Linked DNA regions of Homo sapiens: regions 1 and 2 are each reported to be linked to region 3. The links are microRNA targets in miRTarBase. Many come from high-throughput screens and were not tested one by one. Region 3 holds a microRNA gene; each other region holds the end of a gene's coding sequence.
Evidence for each region. Region 3 holds the annotated microRNA hsa-miR-6847-3p (GGCUCAUGUGUCUGUCCUCUUC, at 2,393-2,414, opposite strand). A microRNA usually pairs through its seed, bases 2 to 8, with sites in the 3' UTR of a target mRNA and lowers its output. Matches are read on the target gene's strand: a 7mer-m8 pairs with bases 2 to 8, a 7mer-A1 pairs with bases 2 to 7 and ends in A, and an 8mer does both.

Region 1: the mRNA of LRRC10 is a reported target of hsa-miR-6847-3p. Seed matches in the 3' UTR shown: 7mer-m8 at 613-619 and 7mer-m8 at 1,161-1,167.
Region 2: the mRNA of AVL9 is a reported target of hsa-miR-6847-3p. Seed matches in the 3' UTR shown: 7mer-m8 at 1,346-1,352.

The regions. Positions count from the first base shown.
Region 1 is chr12:69,607,268-69,610,267 of GRCh38, reverse strand. It overlaps LRRC10 (leucine rich repeat containing 10), which reads left to right. Exons shown (of 1, transcript NM_201550.4): 1 at 1-1,704. The coding sequence ends at 263. Among named protein-coding and RNA genes, the nearest start is that of LRRC10, 2.1 kb to the left of the region's middle.
Region 2 is chr7:32,583,704-32,586,703 of GRCh38, forward strand. It overlaps AVL9 (AVL9 cell migration associated), which reads left to right. Exons shown (of 16, transcript NM_015060.3): 16 at 89-3,000. The coding sequence ends at 204. It also overlaps the pseudogene DPY19L1P1. Among named protein-coding and RNA genes, the nearest start is that of AVL9, 90 kb to the left of the region's middle.
Region 3 is chr8:144,078,998-144,082,331 of GRCh38, reverse strand. MIR6847 (microRNA 6847) reads right to left here and starts at 2,458; the gene lies at 2,390-2,458. EXOSC4 (exosome component 4) reads right to left here. Exons shown (of 3, transcript NM_019037.3): 2 at 2,183-2,389; 3 at 1,684-2,090. The coding sequence ends at 1,731. LOC124902038 (a long non-coding RNA gene) reads left to right here. Exons shown (of 2, transcript XR_007061141.1): 1 at 1-211; 2 at 951-3,334.

The sequences.
Region 1 (3,000 bases), not on the chromosome of region 3:
TCCTGGAGGTGATTGATGTGGACTGGAACAGCATCCGTTACTTCCCCAGCCTGGCGCACCTGTCAAGTCTGAAGCTGGTCATCTATGACCACAATCCTTGCAGGAACGCACCCAAGGTGGCCAAAGGTGTGCGCCGTGTGGGGAGATGGGCAGAGGAGACGCCAGAGCCCGACCCTAGAAAAGCCAGGCGCTATGCGTTGGTCAGAGAGGAAAGCCAGGAGCTACAGGCACCAGTCCCTCTACTTCCTCCTACCAACTCCTGAGGAGCTTCAGTTGCAAGTCAATGCCAAGGACCCAACTGCAGCATGTTCTGGAAGCCTCTCCATTGGAGTGGAAAGGATGGCTCTGGGTCATTTGGGAGTGGCTCTGCTAGTAGAGACTGATGGAGAGAGCCAGGTGGAATGCCATAAATCACACTGAGAAAATATTTCTGGCAAACAGCTCCTCTTCCAGAGGGGAGTTGTGTGCCAATGATGGCATGACAATCCAGAGATCATAACTTCTTTGCAAGAAAACAGCTTCTCCACACATGTATTTTGAAACACTGAAGAGCAAAAGGGGCTGGGACACTCTGAACTCCTGCACTCTCCAGAAGTGACTGGTCATGAAGCTCATGAGCTCCTCAAATAAGGTATTTGCCATAGAACTAAATATTCTGGTGGTCTGTCTCTTTGCAGGACATATTTTCTTTACTGTAAATGACCATAAACAGTATCAATGTATCACTGAGGCCACCGAAAAGGACATTTCTACCTAGGCAATCAGTCAGATTCACAGAAAAAAGTTGTTTGTTGTTGTAAAGGCTCAAGATGAAACTCTTTCCCCAGCAGTTTAGTGCCTGCTGAAAAGATCCCTGATGGACAATACTTCTTGGTGGACTCCAGCTGCCCCTTTTATTATTATTAGAGACAAGGTCTCACTCTGTTGCTAGGCTGGAGTGCAGTGGCACAATCATGGCTCACTGCAGCCCCGAACTACTGGGCTCAAGCCTTCCTCCCGCCTCAGCCTGCCCAGTAACTGGTACTACAGATGTGCACACCTGGCTAAGTCTTTAATTTTTTCGTAGAGATGAGGTCTTGCTATGTTGCCCAAGCTAGTTTCAAACTCCTGGGCTCAAGCGATGCTCCTGCTTCAGCCTCCCAAAGTGCTGGGGTTACAGGCATGAGCCACCACACCCAGCCTTCAGCTGTCACCTTAAACTTGACAGTGGCTCATGCTGATTTAGTTCATTTTCCCTAAAAGGTTTGTCCCAAGATCTGCTCCCAACAGTTGACTGTCACTGACAATGTTGGAAGTCATCTGGAAAAGAGAACCTCTGTGGTAATGTGGTCTCATTAAAGTCAAGCCTTGTTGTGATTCCTGTCTACCTCCCTGAAGCAAAGCCCTTCTGTTTATTCACACTAATGAGCCAGAGCTGAGCTAAATTGAATCCCTGTCCTTGGAGGAAAACCACATTTCCAGAAGCATGTTAGTTTAAAGGTAGTAGGTGAGAAATGTGTTCTCTTGAAACAAGCACTTTGAAATTTGAATAGGAAGTTGTAGTGTATATAGGAAGTCTCTGCCTCTTTCGCCTAGTATCTCTGCCTTTGTTTCAATTTGTTTTGATTTTTACAGACTGTTTTGACAATGTATAAACCAAGGTATTTTGTTTTTTGGAAGTATGTAAATTGTGACCTTCCCACAAATATATAAACTTTAAAGAAATTGTTGTCAGTGGGTAATTTAATAATACAATTCTTTATGTACTTGAACGTTTTCAGCAAACAAGGACACAAAAAGTGTTATCTTAACTAAAACATACAGTACCAAGTTTTTAAAAGGATGTTTTCTGTAAAAGCATCTTAACCCAACAAAGTTTGGTTCTAAAATGACATTACACAGCAGACCTATTTTCATGTATGTCTTCCTACCAGAAATATTTCCTGCTAAACTAGAGGAAGGATGATGTTGCATAATTCCTTCCTATCGTCACCTCCCATCTGCAGAGCATTTGCAACCCATTGATCAGACTGCCAAAAAAGGTCCCTTTAATCATTTAATGTAATAGGTTTAAACTTTCAGGTCAAACATATTTAACTCCTTTAGAAACAAGTCCATATTTCTGTTGGACAGTTAGGATTTATCTCATTCCTAATGACGGAAGCCAAATTATACTCAGCTGATGCTAGAAACTTTTGTCAACAGAACTTGCATTCTAAGCTTAATCTATAGCAAGGTTTATAGATTTCTGACTTTCTTTTGACCCTGTCTTACCCTTCCCAAGATTAATCGGCCATTCTGTAGTTGCAGACTATAACCATAAAACAGAGTGAAGCCAATTGATCCATACAGAACTGTCATCTAAAGAGCTAACTGGTCTGAATCAGTAGTCAAATTATAAACATTTTGGCCCATAATCAAGCTGTTTTCTTCTAAAACAGTCAATACACAAAGAACATTTCTCAAATGGTATGGTCAAGTGTTCGCTGTTGAATTTGCTTTCCAAAAATGTTTTCACTGTAGATTTTCAATCAATTTTTTTTTTTTTTTTTTGAGACAGAATCTTGCCGTGTCGCCCAGGCCGGAGTGCAGTGGCGCTATCTCGGCTCACTGCAAGCTCCGCCTCCCGGGTTCACGCCATTCTCCTGCCTCAGCCTCCCTCAGCCTCCCAAGTAGCTGGGACTACAGGCGCCCGCCACCACGCCCAGCTAATTTTTTGTATTTTTAGTAGAGACAGGGTTTCACTGTGTTAGCCAGGATGGTCTCGTCCTGACCTCGTGATCTGCCCACCTCGGCCTCCCAAAGTGCTGGGATTACAGGTGTGAGCCACCGCAACCGGCCTTCAATCAATTTTATAAAGTATATAAATGCATACTTACATTTCTATAACCCTTCTAATAGTTTCTGGAAATGTTGACACAATTAGAAAGTAAAATAAGAAAATGTTGAAGCACCAAATGTAACTTTTTTGCTCCTGATTTTTAAGTCTTGAAACTCAAAGTGTTAATGCATCAAAGGGAA
Region 2 (3,000 bases), not on the chromosome of region 3:
TTAAAAATGTATTAATTATGTTGGTCTTTCACTGTCTCGTAACAAAAGTTAAGACATTTTTCCTTTTGTTTTTCTCCTCTCCATCCAGGCCAGTCAGTTGGAGGAGCTTTTTCCAGTGCAAAGACAGCTATGTCTTCATGGCTTTCCACTTTCACCACTTCCACCTCCCAAAGTCTCACTGAGCCACCAGATGAGAAGCCTTGAGCAAGGCGTCAGAGGCTGCTATTGCTTTCTGAGGTTTAAGTGTCCCCTGTCTGTCTGCTGCTCCCAGGCTGTTACTAGCCACAGATCCACAGCAGGGGACCATATGTCGAACTGTTTACATGGATGTTGCTCTAAGTGAATGTTTCGGGATGCCGAAATGATGAAATCACAGCCATAGCAGGGATGGCTTTCCAGGTTGGGGTTTCAATTGACTACTTTTATTTCAGTCTGAGCCTGATTAAAACATACAGTGAACCTTCTAATGAATTTTGAGTTCTGATATTGTACATTGGTTTACTTTAGAAGAGTTTTTACTTATGTAAATTTTGTTCTGTTTTGGTGTTTGAATATCTAGATGGTCACTGTAATTTATACTTGCTAAAATTAATTTATATTACCATTTTCTCTAAAGTTGGCCTTAAAACGTGCTTATAAAGTGAAGGGGTCATACAGTTGGGCCTTCATTATTTTGCTGAATTATGTGATGATTTTTTTGCTTTCTACCCACAAAACATTTATTAATTCACTTCCTCCCAGAAACATGAAAGTTAGAGGTGGTAGTTCTGAGGATTGGGTGTTTTGTTTTACGTTTTTAGTTTGTTCTTTCCACATCCTTAAAAACTTGGTTTCAGACATCAAGGAGTATCACTGTGCTTTCCTCCTCTTTATAACTGTGCAGGTGGGTGTGCAGAGAAATAGCAGAGTGATGGTTCGATGATACTGAAGCAGTTTAACATGAATGTGTCTGTAGGGCAATACTTTCAAAGAAGACCTATGTGTTTATTTTTCAACCGCAGTCATGTTGCAGTCTTACAAGCACTTTTTTTTTATTCCAGAGTTTGTGCCATCTGTTTCTCTTTTTTTTTTTGGGGGGGGGGGGGGGGCGGGGTCTCACTCTATCGCCCAGGCTGGAGTGCAGTGGTGCCATCTCGGCTCACTGCAACCTCCATCTCCCGGGTTCAAGCAATTCTTGTACCTCAGCCTCCCAAGTAGCTGGGATTATGGACATGCGCCACCATGCCCAGCTAATTATTGTATTTTTAGTAGAGACGGGGTTTTGCCATGTTGGCCAGGCTGGTCTTGATCTCCTGGCCTCAAGTGATCTGCCCGCCTCAGCCTCTCAAAGTGCTGGGACTACAGGCATGAGCCACTGCGCCTGGCCTGTTTCTTTTTTAAACAGTTTTCTATTGGGTGTTTGCAGACCTACAGCTTTTCTCGTAGTCTTATTCATAAAGCTTTTCAAAGCACTTAGTCTTCTACTTCCCTAACTGAAAGTCCTCCTATAATCAATCCCTACCCCCTTCTAGAAGTATCTTAAAAGAAAAGCAAGGTGATTGTAAGTATTAAATAGAAATCTCATCTTAGTTTATATTCAGCAAAGTAAGAGGCAAGAGAAGAAAACTGCAGCCTTGACATCTGTCATCTGAGAAAGGATATCTGGTTTCATGTTAGGCACATACATGCATGTGTGTGCCATCTACTGATGATTTGTACACAGCTGGACCTCGTGTGTTTGCCATGCTCAGCTCTCATTTGCTTTTCAAGGATACCTGGGATGGCTGTTCTCAGAGAGTACTTACGGGGAACAGACTGCCTTTTAGTAACAAGGGATACTTGGGAAATACATTGTGAGTATGATCTATCCCAGATTGCTGGGGAAATAAAGGAGGGCCCTGATTATATTTGGTTTATTCCTCACTAAATGTTTAAGAAGTAAATGCTCCCAAGGCATTTGAAATGAACATAGAAACATAATCTAAATGTCTCTAAATTTTCCACTTTGTGTTTTCTAAACACAAATTGTATTACTCATTTGAGCATAACTCAAGAATTCAGCGATGATAAATTGAAGGGCTGAATGTGAGAACTCCATTAATTCCACTTCTTCCAAGAAAGTTAACCTCAGGAAATGCTGTTTGAAGAGAAGAAAGTAGTACCAAACAAAAACCTTAAACAGTACTTGAATCTTTTTTGCGCTGAGACTATAAAGAATTCATTCTAACATCTTGTTTCATAAGGGCCACATCATTCGTTGGAGCATGATAGTGTGATTTGTGTACAATTGTTACCTCTCAGCTGCTGAAGTTCACACTTCAAGGATCTAGGAGCTCTGTGAGGGGTCGTCCAGCAAGATGCTGATTTGTCTTTCAGTTGGTATGGTTTCTGTGATCGGGGTAAACTCCCGTCTCCCACTATTCAAAAGCAGCCCAACTCATGCTTTGGAATCCACTGAAATAAAAATAGTTACATGAAGTTTAACTTTGCTTTAATATCACTTGTTCCTCATTGAATATACACTTTGATCGGACTTTCTATTAACATTTCTAGCTAAGAGTTTGACTCTTAGTGGTCACTTTACTGACTTTCCAACATAAAACAAGTATCTCAGAAGATACAACTTTCATCATAGAAATGGTCAAAAGACCATAGCTATATTTCCTTCAGGTTCTGGGAGGTGGAGTTTTTCAAGGAACACTGGCTGTTGTATTGTTGGCAGGGGCCCCAAGGCAGCTCGCACAATCAAAGGCAGGAAGCCTCACCCCTGGTCCTGTGACCCCCCCCCCCCACACACACACATACTTCAGGCTTGGATTCTAGGCTCCAAGTGGCCAGCATAGAAGCAGCAGCCTCTCTCCAAACCCTGGCTCTGTGAGCCATAGGAACCAGCACTAGGTCATCTTCTGACATAGCCCTGGTGAAGGTGTGTGTGTGTTGGTGGCCACACTTGCTAAGGCTTTTGTGTCTAAGAATTGAGTATTTGTACCTAGGTGTGAGGGAACCAGGGTCAGCCAGCCT
Region 3 (3,334 bases):
GAAGGCCCGCAGGAGTCAGAGGTGATGAGCCGGGCAGGTGGGTGGAAAGCCGGCGGCGGTCAGAGAATGGATGCCAAGCGAGACTGCCAATGACTCAGGACGTCCCAGTGGAGTCACAGCGTGAGCCCAGCACCGAGGTTTTCAGAGTCAGATGACTGCAGAGAAGATGCTGATGGCACTACTGGCCAAAACGGGCTTCACTGGAGCTGGGGTGTGTGCATTATAAAGTGGGGGATCATACTGTCACTGTCCGGGCCAGGAGATCCGTGGAATATTAGGGGAGAAGCAGTCCCAGGGTCCAGACTGCAGGGACTGGTAGTCGGGGCTCGGTGGGCCAGAGGTGAATGAAGGGGGAGTTTGCTCAAGAGGGTGCACTTTGGGAAGGTGAGGTGGGTGGATCCTTTGAGATCAGCCTGGACAACGAAATGAGACCCAGTCTGTACACACAAAAAAATTCCTTTTAAATTAGCCAGGTGAGTGGGGCATGCCTGTAGTCTCAGCTCAGGAGGCTAAAGTGGGAGGATCACTTGAGCCTGGGAGATCCAGACTGCAGTGAGCCGTGATCACACCACTGCACTCCAGCCTGAGCACAGAGCAAGACCATGTCTCAACAAACAAAATAGTGGTGGGCAGAGAGAAGGGTCAAAGCTGAAGACTCCATGTGAGAACAAGTTTTTTTTTGTTTTTTTTTTGAGACAGAGTCTTGCTCTGTCACCCAGGCTGGAGTGCAGTGGTGTAATCTTGGCTCACTGCAACCTTCAACTCCTGGTTCAAGTGATTCTCCTGCCCCAGCCTCCCTAGTAGCTGGGATTACAGGTGCCTGCCACCACACTAATTTTTGTGTCTTTAATAGAGATGGGGTTTTACCACATTGGCCAGGCTGGTCTCGAACTCCTGACCTCAAGTGATCCATGAGAACAGGTAATTTTTGTACTTTTATTTTTTTTTAGATGGAGTCTTGCTCTGTCGCCCAGGCTGGAGTGCAGTGGCACAATCTCGGCTCACTGCAACCTCCGCCTCCCAGGTTCAAGAGATTCTCCTGTCTCAGCCTCCTGAGTAGCTTGGATTACAGGCATGTGCCACCACTCCCAGCTAATTTTGTATTTTTAGTAGAGACGGGGTTTCGCCATGTTGGCCAGGCTGGTCTCAAACTCCTGACCTGAAGCAATCCGCCTGCCTCAGCCTCCCAAAGCTCTGGGATTACAGGCGTGAGCCACCATGCCTGGCTGTTGTACTTTCAGAGCCCAAGGTAAGCAGCAGGAAAAGCCCAGGGGGCTCCAAACCATAGTCCAGAGGTTGTGGGACATGGCCCCCACATCCCTAGGGTGGGTACCCAGAGCCAGCTGAGTTCTTCCTCAGCCCTTTGCTCAGGGCCCCCGATGTGCTGGAATAAGGGTAACAGATTCCTCAGTCTAATGGCCTGGCTCATCTTGCCAGGCCCTGCCTCCTGCTCAGCTGCCTTGAGTCCTTACTGGGACATGCTGCTTTTTCCACCCAGGGCCTCCCCTACAGAAACCCCCTAATCCACTGTTCTCTTCAGGGTTTGAATCAGGCTACACAGAGATAGGCCGTTCATGTGTGGGCGAGGGTCCCTAATCATCCCCAGGAGCCAGCACCAGACCAGGCTCTGCCAGCCTTCACATGGCTCTGAAGTGCTGTTAGGTGATAACGTACAGTGAGGGGTGTGTGGGCAGAGGAGGGTTTTATTCTGGACATGGGTGGCTGGGTGGTCAGTCCCCCAGCAAGATAGAGGCCTCACGCACATGCTGCCGGACCACTCGATCTAAGAGGGTGTGCACATCTCGGGCAGCCTGGGCAGCAGCCTCCAACACCCGCTCCAGGTGGTCCTCGTGCAGCCGGGCATCCATCTCAAGCAGCGCAATCTGTCCTGAGGCTGGCAGCAGGGCCAGGGCCAGCTGGGGGCCACCAGCTGCTTCCTCCACATGGCTGAGGTCCGCCAGGGCTGTGCCGTCCACGAAGCCAGCTGAGCACGCACACACAAAGTCTCTCATGGGTATCCCGGCATCCAGCACTGCCAGCGTGGCTGCATTCACACAAGCTGCATAGGTCCCACCATCTGCCTGTAGCACCTGCAGGGAACCCAGGGTGTCAGTCTATCAGACTCCCTCCCCAACCCCATCACACCCTTCCCTCCCTGGATTGACGGCTGCAGCTGGCTCACCTGCACATAGATATCAATCTGGGAGCGTGGGTGCAGCTGTGTGAGGATGGCTGCTTCGAAAGTCTGGCGGAGCTGCAGGCCCATCTCACAGGACTTACGGTCCCCATGTGGCCGTCGCTTGCGCTCACCTGTGCTGAAGGTCGCTGAACTATATTGACAGTTCACTAGGGCCCTGTCCGGCAGGGCTCGAGCCCGGGAGCCCCGGATCTGGAAGAGGACAGACACATGAGCCAGGCCCACTCCTTCCAGCTCACACTCCACTGTCCTCTGTGGGTCTGCCTCTCCCTCCACTTTCAATGCCTCAGCAAGGGGCAACTGCGTTACCTCCAAAACAAAGCCCCCTGTTTTGCGCTCTCTGTCTTGCATGTGTCGCCCTCTGGCACCTTTTAATTGGCTTCCTTGTGTCCATCCTTGCCCCATTCCCTGCCAACCCAAGTTTACAAACATCAACGCTGCTTCTGTCTCACCTACACACTCAAATCCTAACTACCTTACAAAGGTTTCACATTACATATGAAATAAGATCCCAAATCATTTCCCTACTCTACAAAACCCTAAGTCCTCACCTCCCCGGGAACCCTCAACCTGATTTGGAGTTATCCCCTCTTTCCCCACCAGCAGTCTTTCTGCTCTGCATAAGTGCCTTGCTTGTTTTCACCACCGTGGTCTTCGCCCTTCTGGTTCCCTCCGCCTGGAAAGCAGAGCTCCCACACTCATGCGCTAAGCAAACACTCTTTCAATACCTTCGCTGGCCAGGCAGTTACAGCGCTGGAAGCACAGTAATGAAACCAGATAGTTTTATGTAAAGTTCCTTTCTTTAGGAAGCTTATGTTCCAGCGAGGAAACAAAGGGGAAAATGCTTAAGCAAAATAGGCATTTGAGATTGTAGGTGCACAAAACAAAGGGTTTATTGTAGGGCGAGAAGTACCGCGTGGATAATAAGGTCGTCTGGGAAGGAGTGACGTCGGAGTAGAGCTGAAAGGAGAGGGAGCGAGTGGGGGAGTGCCTAGCACGTTGAAGAGCCGCAAAGAGGAAGGAGGGCGCAGGGACAGAGGCCGATGAGAAAGGCAGGACCACCGCGCAGCACACTAAGGACTTGCGTTTACTCCGAGTGAGATGCGGTGCTGAGCATCGGCTGTGTAGACTGAGGCG